Homo sapiens: one gene and its partners. The protein of the gene in region 3 interacts with the protein of the main gene of each other region in a pairwise test. Each region holds a gene or a part of one and is shown on either strand. Other genes may lie near its edges.

Region 1 (3,600 bases), on a different chromosome or scaffold from region 3:
TCCCACCTCAAGCCTCCCGAGGAGCTGGGATTACAGGCGCACACCACCATGCCTGGCTAATTTTTGTATTTTTAGTAGAGACAGAGTTTCACCATGTTGGCCAGGCTGGTCTCGAACTCCTGACCTCAGGTGATCCGCCCACTTCGGCCTCCCAAAGTGTTGGGATTATAGGTGTGAGCCATAGTGCCCAGCCTCTTTTTTTTTTTTTTTTTAACTCACAGAACATGAAATTATATGGTTTTAATAATGCAAAGCTACTTCCATGGGGCTACAGCAGAGAGAAAATAAGGCTAAAATGGAACTTAAAGCTCAAAACATTTCTACATGGCTGTTTACAGGGGCAGGTGGAGGGAGTCCTCCCTCTGCATTAATAGAAAACAAAAACAATTGGGCCTATTCGGCATTGTTGGAAATGTTCTATGTCTTGATCTGGTGGGTTTTTACCTGTGTACAATATATGTACACACGTAAAAATTCATTTAGCTGTACACATAATTTCTATGACTTTTTTGTATGTAAATTATACCTCAATGGAAAGGTTTTAAAATGGACTTAATTAGGCCCAGCATGGTGGCTCACGCCTGTAATCCCAGCATTTGGGGAGGCTGAGGTGGGCGGATTGCTTGAGCCCAGGAGTTCAAGACCAGCCTGGGCAACATGATGAAACCTCATCTCTACAAAAAAATACAAAAATTATCTTGGCGTGGTGGCGCACGTCTGTAGTCCCAGATGCTCTGAAGGCTGAGGAAAGAGGAGGATGGCTTGAACCCGGGAGGCAGAGCAGAGGTAGCAGTGAGCCGAGACTGCGCCACTGCACTCCAGCCTGGGTGACAGAGCCAGACTCTGTCTCAAAAAAAAAAAAAAAAAAAAGTTAATTAGACGGGTGTGGTGGTGCGCGCCTGTAGTCCTAGATAATTTCGAGGCTAAGGGGGAAGATCTCTTGAGCCCAGGTGTTCGAGGCTGCAGTGAGCTATGATTGGGCCACTGCACTCCTACTTGGGCAACAGATAGAGGCCTTGTCTTAAAAAAAAAATTTTAAAAAGGCCGGGCACGGTGGCTCACGCCTGTAATCCCAGCACTTTGGGAGGCCGAGGCAGGCGGATCACCAGGTCAGGAGATCGAGACCATCCTGGTTAACACGGGGAAACCCCGTCTCTACTTAAAATACAAAAAATTAGCCGGGTGTGGTGGTGGGTGCCTGTAGTCCCAGCTACTTGGGAGGCTGAGGCAGAAGAATGGCATGAACCCGGGAGTCGGAGCTTGCAGTGAGCCAAGATCGTGCCACCGCACTCCAGCCTGAGCGACAGTGCGAGACTCCGTCTCAAAAAAAAAAAAAAAAAAAAAAAAAAGACTTGAGAGAAAGTGAATTTCCATCCAGGAAGATTAAGGATCCCCTTCTGAGTACTTTAAAAAGGTTATCTATTTGTGCTGAGGGAAGAGGTAGAATATTAGGGAACCAATAAGATAACTTCTCTTTTGGAGAGGTTTCCAAAGTCCTTCTGTCCTCAGAAATTCTCATGTTCCTCCCCAGGGACAGAAAAATCCTCCTTGCTGTCTAATCTCCATCTCTCCTATTGCAATGCTAGCCACTCCCTCTGCCCTCATGGAGCCCAGCCTTTCCCCTGGCCTCAGACAAAATCTCTTTAGAGCCCTGTAATTTGGAGTGTTGAGAGAGATTCCATTTCAACCTTTTCACCATCCGTTCTCTGCCCCTCACCCTATTCTCTTCTTCTTGGGGATGTCAATTCCTGTTCTGAGCCCGCCCCCCACCCAGGCCCTTTTCCGGTGGTATGTGCCAGCCGGTCCTGCATCCCACATCCCCAGCTGTTGACATTTCATTGCCATTACCCACAGAATAAAGAAAGGGGCCCTGTTATTCAACAATAGGGGAAAAGACAGAGACAATGGGAAATTGTGCTTCCGATGGGGTGGGGACTGAGAAGGAAAGGACAGACAGACAGACAGACAGGGGGTTGTACAGAAGAGGTCCGGTTTCTTGAAGCAGCTGGAAGTCCTGGATAGTTCCCACCTGAAAGTCTGTTTGCAAAGGCAATGCGCACTCAGGCACCAGAGGGCAGAGGTGAGTACTCTGTTGTGGGGAGAGGGGAGATGGGGATGCTGCTTAGATGAGGCGCATATGGAAAGGGAGGCAGCTCGAGCTTGGCAGTTATGGATCTTTGAGCCACATTTAGAGTTCATCCCCATCCCCATCAGTCCAACACCTTCATATCCACCGATCAATCTACACCTCTCTGGTTCAAAGGCATCGAGAAAAAATGAAGCACCTCACTTTCTGCACTCTTCCAGGTCATCATTCCTGGGTTGCTCCCTTTATTCCACTCCCCTTCATGGGTTCCCAGCCCTCATCCCAACCCCAGCATCTTCCCCTGGTCCCGGAATAGTGATTTCCACAGATATAGTCACAGGGCTGGACACAGGTCTCTTAACATGGCTTAGTGGACTGATGGGGGTGGGGGTCGTTCTTGGCACCTTGGCTTCTTCTTTGAGCACAGGACAGAAGCTTTTCCTCAAAGGTGCAAAAGGAGCAACTGTGTTGAACAGGGGCTCAAGTTCCAGGGTTTTAAGGTGCTTGGAACTCCCAGGAGCCTGGCAAACCTTCATCCAGAACCTCTTCCTCAAGCAAGACAAAAAGCTGCTAAGCACTGCTCCCTCCGTCTCTGTGAAGAGACCAGCTTCTAACAGGTAGGCAATGGGCTGCTGACTACTCTCATTTTCTGTAAGAGGTATGAAGAGCATGTGTGTGCACTGTTTTGAAATGCAGAAATATAGATTAGTGATTAAGCGCTTGAGCCTCACTGTCAGATCTGTATTCAAATCCCAGCAAACCCTTCCTCTTACTAGCTGTGTGACCTCATTTCCTAAAATAGGTGCACCTTGGTTTCAGCATGTGTACAGTAGGATTTATAATTGTTTCTGCCTCAGGATTGCTGGGAGGAGTAAATATAAAAATATACATGTAAAGTGCTTAGAGCAGTGTCAGGCACATTCAATTTTAAACGTGTTCATTTGAGCTATCATTATTGTTGGTCTCAGTCAATCTCAGTCCTCACGATCATTCTTACTTATCAAGTTCTCCTATAAAGAAGTGGTTCTCTTGCTCATGTTCGCATCCCAGATACTTTCACCTTTAACCACTGAGAAGTTTTCTATGCATAACCTCCGTTTCTCCTACTGCAAACTGGTCTTTGGTCCTCATTTGCAGAAAGATGGAGCTCCATTCTTTAGATTTCTGGCAACTTCTCAGGGTGCTTCCTCCATCTCCCCATTCCCCATCCCATCTTCCCATGAATCCTTAATGTAAGTTCATTAAACCATACACACTTATTTAGCACCTACTATGTACCAGAAACTATGCTGGGAACTGGAGATAACAGCTAACACATAGACAGCACTTATTACATTCCAGACACTATTTCAAGCATTTTGCGTATATCAATTTATTTATTCCTCACAACTACTCAGTGAGGTAGGTGTGCTATTATTCCCCACATTTCACTGATGAGGACACTGAGGCAGAGAGAGGTTAAGGAACTTGTGCATGATAATTAACTTATGCATAGTCATGCAATTAGGAAATAG
Region 2 (3,829 bases), on a different chromosome or scaffold from region 3:
AAATATCTTGGGAATAAATTTAACTGAGTTGGTAAAAGATCTGTACACAGAAACGATAAAACATTGATGAAAGACATTGAACTTGGCACAAATAATTGGAAAGATATCCTGTGTTCATGGATTGGATGAATTAATATTGTTAAAATGTTCTTACTCCTCAAAGCAATCCACAGATTCAATGCAATGCCTATCTATCAAAACTCCAATGTCATTCTTCACAGAAATAGAAAAATCAATTAAAAAATTTATATGAAATTATAAAACACCCCAGATAGCCAAAGCAATTTTGAGCAAAAAAAAGAACAAACCCGGAGGCATCACACTACCTGATTTCAAAATAAAAGCTATGGTATTCAAGACAGCATGGTACTAACATAAAAAGAGATACCTTGACCAATAGAATAAGATAGAGAGCCCAGAAATAAATTCATGCATTTATGGTCAATCGATTATTTACAAAGGTGCCAAGAACATAAAATGAAGAAAGGACAGTGTCTTCAATGAATGATGTTGCAAAACTGTATTTACACACAGAAGAATGAAATTGAACCGTTATTTCACTCCATATGCAGAATCAACTGAAATTGGATTAAAGACTTAAACTTAAGACCTTAAACTGTAAAATGGCTAGAAGAAAACAGAAAAAGCTTCACAACATTAATCTCCACAACAGTGAATTTTTTGGATCTGACCCTAAAAGCACAGGAAACAAAAGCAAAACTAGACAAGTGGAATTGTATTAAACTAAAGAGCTGCACAGCAAAGGAAACAACAGAGTGAAGATGCAACCTACAGATTGTGAGAAAATATTTGCAAATCATACATCTTGATAAGGGGCTAATATCAACAATATGTAGGGAACTCAAATTACTCAATCACAAGAAAACAGTTATATTTTAAAATGGGCAAAGAACCTGAGTAGACAGACATTTCTTGAAAGAAGACATGCTTTATTCCACTACAACTTTAATTTTGCCTCTGAGAAGACCTTGGACAAAGAATCATTCCCTGGTGGCTTTGATCTGTTTTCTCTAACAACTCTTGACAAATTACTGGAAAGGGGTGTAGTAGCAAAGGTCTACCAACACATCAGGGTCTGTGGATTAAGAGCCTTTAGTTGAGAAAAAATGGCTCACTGTACTCAAACTAAAGAATAAATTTAGATTTGTGTATGATACTCTTTCTACCAAAGAATTGAAAATAAACTTTGTTTTTCAGTATATAAATATAATTTAAATTTTTTTCTCAGCCATTGTCTCACATCCTGAGAATCTAGAAAATTTAGGATTAAAGATAAACTAGTTTAAAAAGTAGTTGTTGGCCAGGCGCAGTGGCTCATGCCTGTAATCCCAGCACTTTGGGAGGCCAAGATGGGCGGATCATCTGAGGTCAGGAGTTCGAGACCAGCCTGGCCAACGTGGTGAAACCCTGTCTCTACTAAAAATACAAAAATTAGCCACGTGTGGTGGTGGGCGCCTGTAATCCCAGCTACTTGGGAGGCTGAGGTAGGAGAATCGTTTGAACCTGGGAGGTGGAGGCTGCAGTGGTATGAAATCATACCACTGCACTCCAGCCTGGGCAACAGAGCAAGTCTGTCTCAAAGGAAAAAAAAAGGAGTGTTTGCTGCTTAGGTTTTGTTTTTTAATTTAATAATCCATTGATTAACTACTGAAAAACATGTTTTAAATGTTTAAAGTATAAATAATACTCCAGCTTTTAGTAGGTATAAATATTATCAGCTTTTATAGTTATAAAAATAGTATCTTACTTCATCTGATTTATTTGGAGGAATAGAAAAAACTAAGGATTATGGATAACAGAAGAGGGCAAAGACTAAGGTAGATGTATAACAATATTTTTAATATGTCTTGGTGACCTGGCTAAAATGAAGATACTTTTTAAAATCCATCCTTTTATGCTTTTAAGAAAACGTTTAAAATTAAATTCAAGTGCTGATTTAGTGTAAAATTCTACACTTTTATTACTGAAGAAGCACATCCAGAATAGACTAACCTTTTGTGTGTTCTCAAAATAAAATAATATGACTCCTACTTTCTGTGATGGCTGTATAATACTTTTTACAGTAGAGCCACAACATTCTTCTTTCCCCCTCCATAAAAAGCATGATTATGAGTTATGATAAAAGCTTCAGTGATCTGAAGGGAAGGATGGGGGGGAGGGGGAGACCTTTCACTTACAAAGGCTAAAAATTGGTATATTTTTGTTTTTTTGCTTCCAGATTTTGTACTTCAGCTGCTGATATGAAAATTAGATTATTTACTTCAGATCTTCAGGATAAAAATGAATATAAGGTATGTTGACAACCATATAAATCTTTAGAGCTTATTTTAAAACGTGTTTGTTTTTTGCTTTTTTAATTGGATTTATTCCAATTTAAAATGGCTTTTTATGGTCATCATTAAAGTATATAATTTAGAGTCTCATTTACTCTACTATAGGTTATAATAACTAGCTTACTATATTATTAAGAACTAAGTTCTTAATGACTGCAGATTATAAATCTGATATCTCTTATTAAATTGAAATATTAGGTAGGAACAACAAATAAGAAAACTAGAAATTTACAGTTGGATATAGTAGGAGTATAATAGACATGACCATTCATAGAGTAAGAGTTGAACTTCATGGGAACAAATGATCAGTACAGCATAGCACAGGCAGAATTCCAAAGCGGTTAAGAGCACAGACACAGAAGCCAGATTCCTTGCATTTAAACTCCAGTGTTATTACTTAGTCGTGGTGTGACCTTGGTTAAGTAACCTAATCTCTTTGTGCTAATATCCTTACCTGTAAAATGTGGGTAATCATAGCAGCTGCCTTATAGGATTATGAGCATTGACTGAGCAAATTCATATAAAACGCTTAGAATAATGTTGATACATAGTAAACGCCGTATGTGTGTTTTCTATTACTATAATAATAACCCTCAGATTGGGTCAAAATTGCATCATGTTTTCTTTTAAGAATGGTATTGCCTTCTTGGCTTTCTAATAAGCCAAAATATGAATATTGTTATAAAACAAAGATAAATTACAAACCTTTCCAATCATTTAGAAAATAGTAAAAATTATGCTGTAAGCTATTTACAGTGGGCTTAATGTACTGTATGGATTGGTTAATTTAAGGCTGTACCAGAAATAACCAAGTATATAAATGGCACATAAAATTTTGACCTATCCAAAGTTAATATGCTAGTTATAATACACATTAAACATTTACGGTTAATTTAGTTTGTCTTGTAGACTGTGACAGAAGCTTTGGAGAATGATTTGGAGGACCTGGGTTTGTTAAAGTTGCTCAGGAATGTTTGACCCAAATCTTTTTGTTTTTTGTTTTTTTTTTAATATTACATTTCTACATAGTGAGCAGTACTATATAGAACTGCTTTAATAACCTCAGAACTGAGATCAAATTTGAGTTTTTGGAAAGAAGGAAGGGTAGAAAGAATGATAACCATTAAAGTAATTATCTGACAGGCCTATTTAGGATTTCAACTATGAAGATTTAGACAGATTGAACTTTATCTGCTCACACAGTCCTCCACTGTGCAACTTCTCATTTGTTGCTTCTGTGTCGAGATTTTTTGTGTTGGTGATAACTATGGGCTTATAACAACTAGCTGTCTTCACTGCTAGCAGTCACATTGAGCATGTAAATGAAGGCATTAGATGGTGAAGTCCATCCTGTGTGTGTTTGTTAAGTAGTGAGTATGCAGAACAGCAGATATAATGTAAAAAGCCTAGAGGTACCCTACCTCGGTACCCCTAAAAAGTTTTCTAGCTCTAATTTTTATTTAGGCTTTATATAA
Region 3 (3,829 bases):
TTGTTGCACAAGTTCAACGATGTGGTGTGGCATGTGAGCTGGTCCATCACAGCCAACATCCTGGCTGTCTCTGGTGGAGACAATAAGGTACATACCCATTCCCCGTGGCATGGTGGACACAGCCTGTTGGTCTTCACCCCGCCCACTAGAGAGGGCACTTGACATTCCCATCTGACTGCAGGCTGGGCAGGAGCCTTAGCCAGGACTGCGTTTTGAGTGTGCCTCTTAGTTACATCATTAATGTCACAGCCCCTGAGGTAGTATTAACACGTCCCCCTTTCACAGATGAGGAAAGAAGCTGACAGAGGCGATTTGACTTGCATGGGGGTCCCAAAACTATGAGGTGGCAGAGCCAGTCAGGCCCATCACCCTACTAAGCATTTGGTCACCTCATGGTGATGTTCAGTTAGCTGTGCCAAAAAGGCAAGTGTATAAGAACCCATAAACAGAAGAAGATTGGGGATATTTTTTGTCCATAACACTGAAAAGGCTTTTTAAAAACCTTTAGAGTTTATGAATACTTGTTATGCTGGTAAGAGGCAGGTACACAGTGGGTGCACTGGAAGAGTTTGCATTTTGCAGCTGAAAGAGTTCTGGAGACCAGCTGCTCAGGGACCCAAATGTACTTCACACAACTGGACTGTGCAGTTAAAAGTGGCCAAGGTCATTTTATGTGACGTGTATTTTACAATTAGAAGGAAAAAAGCTACCCGCAGAAAGGAAGCAGTAACAAGCCATAGCCATCTGCCCAGCTGAATTCCCCTATAAGACAGAGGATCTCTAACGCCGCAGGGTCAGTTCCACGTGGAGTGGCTGTGCTGCGTTTTCAGGCACATCTGCTCTGCGCCTGAAGTGCGAGTTGGTCTGGATCCTGCCAGCCCTTGCTGCTTCTCTCCCTTGCCTATGTTGGTCTTTTACTGTTTCCCAGTGGCCACTTTGGCTCCATGTCTTACCTTTCATTTGTGTGGCTCACGGCACAACCAACACAGGCAAGGCAGAGAAGCAGCTGGTCTCCAGAACTCTTTTCAGCTGCAAAATTGAAACTCTGTACCCATTAAATAACTCCCTTCCCCATTGCCCCTCCCCAGCCCTGGCAGCCACCCTTCTCCTTTCTGTCTATGTGAATGTGACTGCTCTAGCGACCTATCTAAGTGGAATCATACAGTATTTGTCCTTTTGCGACTATGTCACTAGCAGTATGCCCTTAAGGTTCCTCCATGCTGTACGTAGCATGTGTCAGAATTCCTTCCTTTGTAAAGCTAAGTAGTGTTGCATTGTATAGACAGCCCACACCCTGTTTCTACACTTATTCCTCCACCAAAGGGCACCTGGGCTGCTGCCACCTCTTAGCTATTGCGAATAGTGTGGCTGTGAACATGGGTGTGCAGATCTTGAGAGCCTCTGCAGGCGGCTTTTCTGGCCGAGGGTCCCTTTCATCTACAGTGGTCCCAGAAAGATCTAGCAGGCCCCCTCTCAAAGCCATATTTCTAGTGAGTGCCAGAGTCAGGACCAGAACCCAGGTTGATGGCACTCAGGGCAGACCAAGGGACCCAGATTGCCTCAAGCAGGCCCCCAGTGACTTTTTTACAAGGCTGTAAGCAAGTGCCTGGCTGTGCACGCAGTGTTGTGGGGCCCGTCACTGTGCATTTAGGCTTCTTGCTCTTCTTTACAAGCCTGTTTCCTTTCGCTGTCTCCATAGCACCCTTACCTAAAGGACTTAGTATGTTTTCAATCCCAGAGCATTCTGCAGTGTGTTGAGTGAATAGTTTGTCCCTAAAGCAAGAGTTCTTAAAATCAAAATCGTTATTTTCATTTTTAATCAAACTAATATATGTACATAGGTTTAGATTGTTTTTGTTTTTTGTTTTGTTTTTTGAGATCGAGTCTCGCTCTGTCGTCCAGGCTGGAGTGCAGTGGCGCAGTCTCGGCTCACTGCAACCTCCGCCTCCTGGGTTCAAGCGATTCTCCTGCCTCAGCCTCCCCAGTAGCTGGGAGATTACAGGTGGCTGCTAGTTTTTTTGTGTGTATTTTTAGTAGAGATGAGATGGGGTTTCACCAGTTCAGGCTGGTCGCGAACTCCTGGCCTCAGGTGATCCACCCATCTCAGCCTCCCAAAGTGCTGAGATTACAGGCGTGAGCCACCATGCCCGACCTAGACTGATTTTTTTTAATGCAGCCTCCTAATTTTCTCTCCAGGGGCAAACCTTTTCAGCTCTTAGCTATTTCTTATACAGTTTACTTCAGTGTAGAAACAACATATTGAACTGTTACCTTCCTCTACCACAGTAGTTTTCAAACTGCAGTGTTGTTAAACCTGTTAAAACAGATTGCCAGCCCCACCCCCAGAGCTTCCTAATCAGTTGTTCCAGGCCCCAAGAATCTGCAGTTGTAGCAAGCTCCCAGGTGACCGATGCTCTGCTCTGGTCTGGGGACCACACTTTGCGAACCCTGCTCCCCGCCACCCCATATCCTCTCGCTGTAGCTCTGTCACAGTTTGCTGAAAACAGTATCCTGTGTTGACATCATCATCCACAGCTGCTGTTATTGTTACTCCTTTTTTTCTGTGAGTTTTTATTCCTGGACTCTCATTTTGGTGAGATTTCAGTGGAGGAGGGACATGCTCTGTTCACCCACAAGCCTCTGGGCAGTGGTTCTTGATGAGGATGAGGCTCATATTTAGGGGACAGCAGAGGGAAGGGCACAGACCCGTGATAATCTGCTTGTGCACTGACTCGCAGGTGACCCTGTGGAAGGAGTCAGTTGATGGGCAGTGGGTGTGCATCAGTGATGTCAACAAGGGCCAGGGCTCCGTATCAGCATCAGTGACAGAGGGCCAGCAGAACGAGCAGTGACAAGACAGGTGGGGCCTGGCTCCCCACCCGCCAGCTCCAGGACTGCCCCTTCCTGGGCCAACTAACCAGACAACTGGGAAGAGCCCCCAACTCCAACAGGATTATTTTCCCAGGAGGAGTTACAGATGCAGCCACAGATTGATCATCTGCCTTAACGTGATCGGAGATGCTTTGTAATCTACTGTCCAGCTGAAAGCACTCATGTTACGAGGAAGAAACTACAAGTGATGTTCAAATCTATTTTGGGTCATTTTTATGTACCTTTGGGTTCAGGCATTATTTGGGGGGTTTTGTTTCCAAAGGAACTAAATAAAGTCATATTGCTTATAATTCCTGCTGCGTTATCCTAACCACCCCACCCCACCAGCTCAGTTTGACTCTTGTCGGTCCACGCACTAGAACAAACTATTCACAAAGGCCACGGCTGTGATGGCCTGGCTTAACCCCACGCACAAAGGTGGCTTGTCACTGCATGAGCATCTCTGATTCAGTTTATACTGAAAGCACCATACAGAGCACTGGACTCAGCCTTTGGTGACAAGGACTGTAGCCCTGGGTCTGCTACTTACCCTCTCGGTACACATCCTGTTCTGCAGAATGGGACTAATACAGTCTGCCCTACAGGATGGCTGCAAGATTCAAACACGCTAGTGCATCTGGTGACCTACAAAATGCCACGCAGGTGCAACGTGGTATTAACCAAACACCAATAGTTAAGATGCTGGCCCAGAAAGTGGGCACGATTCATTTAGTTTATTGACCCTGTCAGGAAAAGGAGGGCCCCATGATGGGAGACCTAACTGACCCTGAACCAGGTATCACCTTTCAGCGGAGGCCCTGTGACCCTGACAATCGCCATAGCCATCAGTGAGCCTGCGGTGAGCCAGACCCTACACTGGATCTTTCACACATTCGCTAATTTAAGCAACACGAGAACCCCGTGTGGGTGTACCCAGTTCACTGATGAGGAAGCGCTC

What was found.
Region 1: the proteins of SEC13 (region 3) and HAPLN2 interact in binary tests that used the Homo sapiens proteins (3 or more experiments, as listed by UniProt).
Region 2: the proteins of SEC13 (region 3) and NUP37 interact in binary tests that used the Homo sapiens proteins (3 or more experiments, as listed by UniProt).

What each region holds. Positions count from the first base shown.
Region 1 is NC_000001.11:156,617,456-156,621,055, forward strand, and holds the start of HAPLN2 (hyaluronan and proteoglycan link protein 2 precursor), read left to right. Parts: upstream 1-1,959; 5' UTR 1,960-2,052; coding exon of another isoform or gene 2,053-2,080; intron 2,081-2,513; coding exon of another isoform or gene 2,514-2,703; intron 2,704-3,600. UniProt on the Homo sapiens protein: Mediates a firm binding of versican V2 to hyaluronic acid. May play a pivotal role in the formation of the hyaluronan-associated matrix in the central nervous system (CNS) which facilitates neuronal conduction and general structural stabilization.
Region 2 is NC_000012.12:102,099,515-102,103,343, reverse strand, and holds part of NUP37 (nucleoporin Nup37), read left to right. Parts: intron 1-2,239; coding exon 2,240-2,312; intron 2,313-3,829. UniProt on the Homo sapiens protein: Component of the Nup107-160 subcomplex of the nuclear pore complex (NPC). The Nup107-160 subcomplex is required for the assembly of a functional NPC.
Region 3 is NC_000003.12:10,300,284-10,304,112, reverse strand, and holds the end of SEC13 (protein SEC13 homolog), read left to right. Parts: coding exon 1-87; intron 88-2,738; coding exon 2,739-2,852; 3' UTR 2,853-2,965; coding exon of another isoform or gene 2,966-3,007; 3' UTR 3,008-3,182; downstream 3,183-3,829. UniProt on the Homo sapiens protein: Functions as a component of the nuclear pore complex (NPC) and the COPII coat. At the endoplasmic reticulum, SEC13 is involved in the biogenesis of COPII-coated vesicles.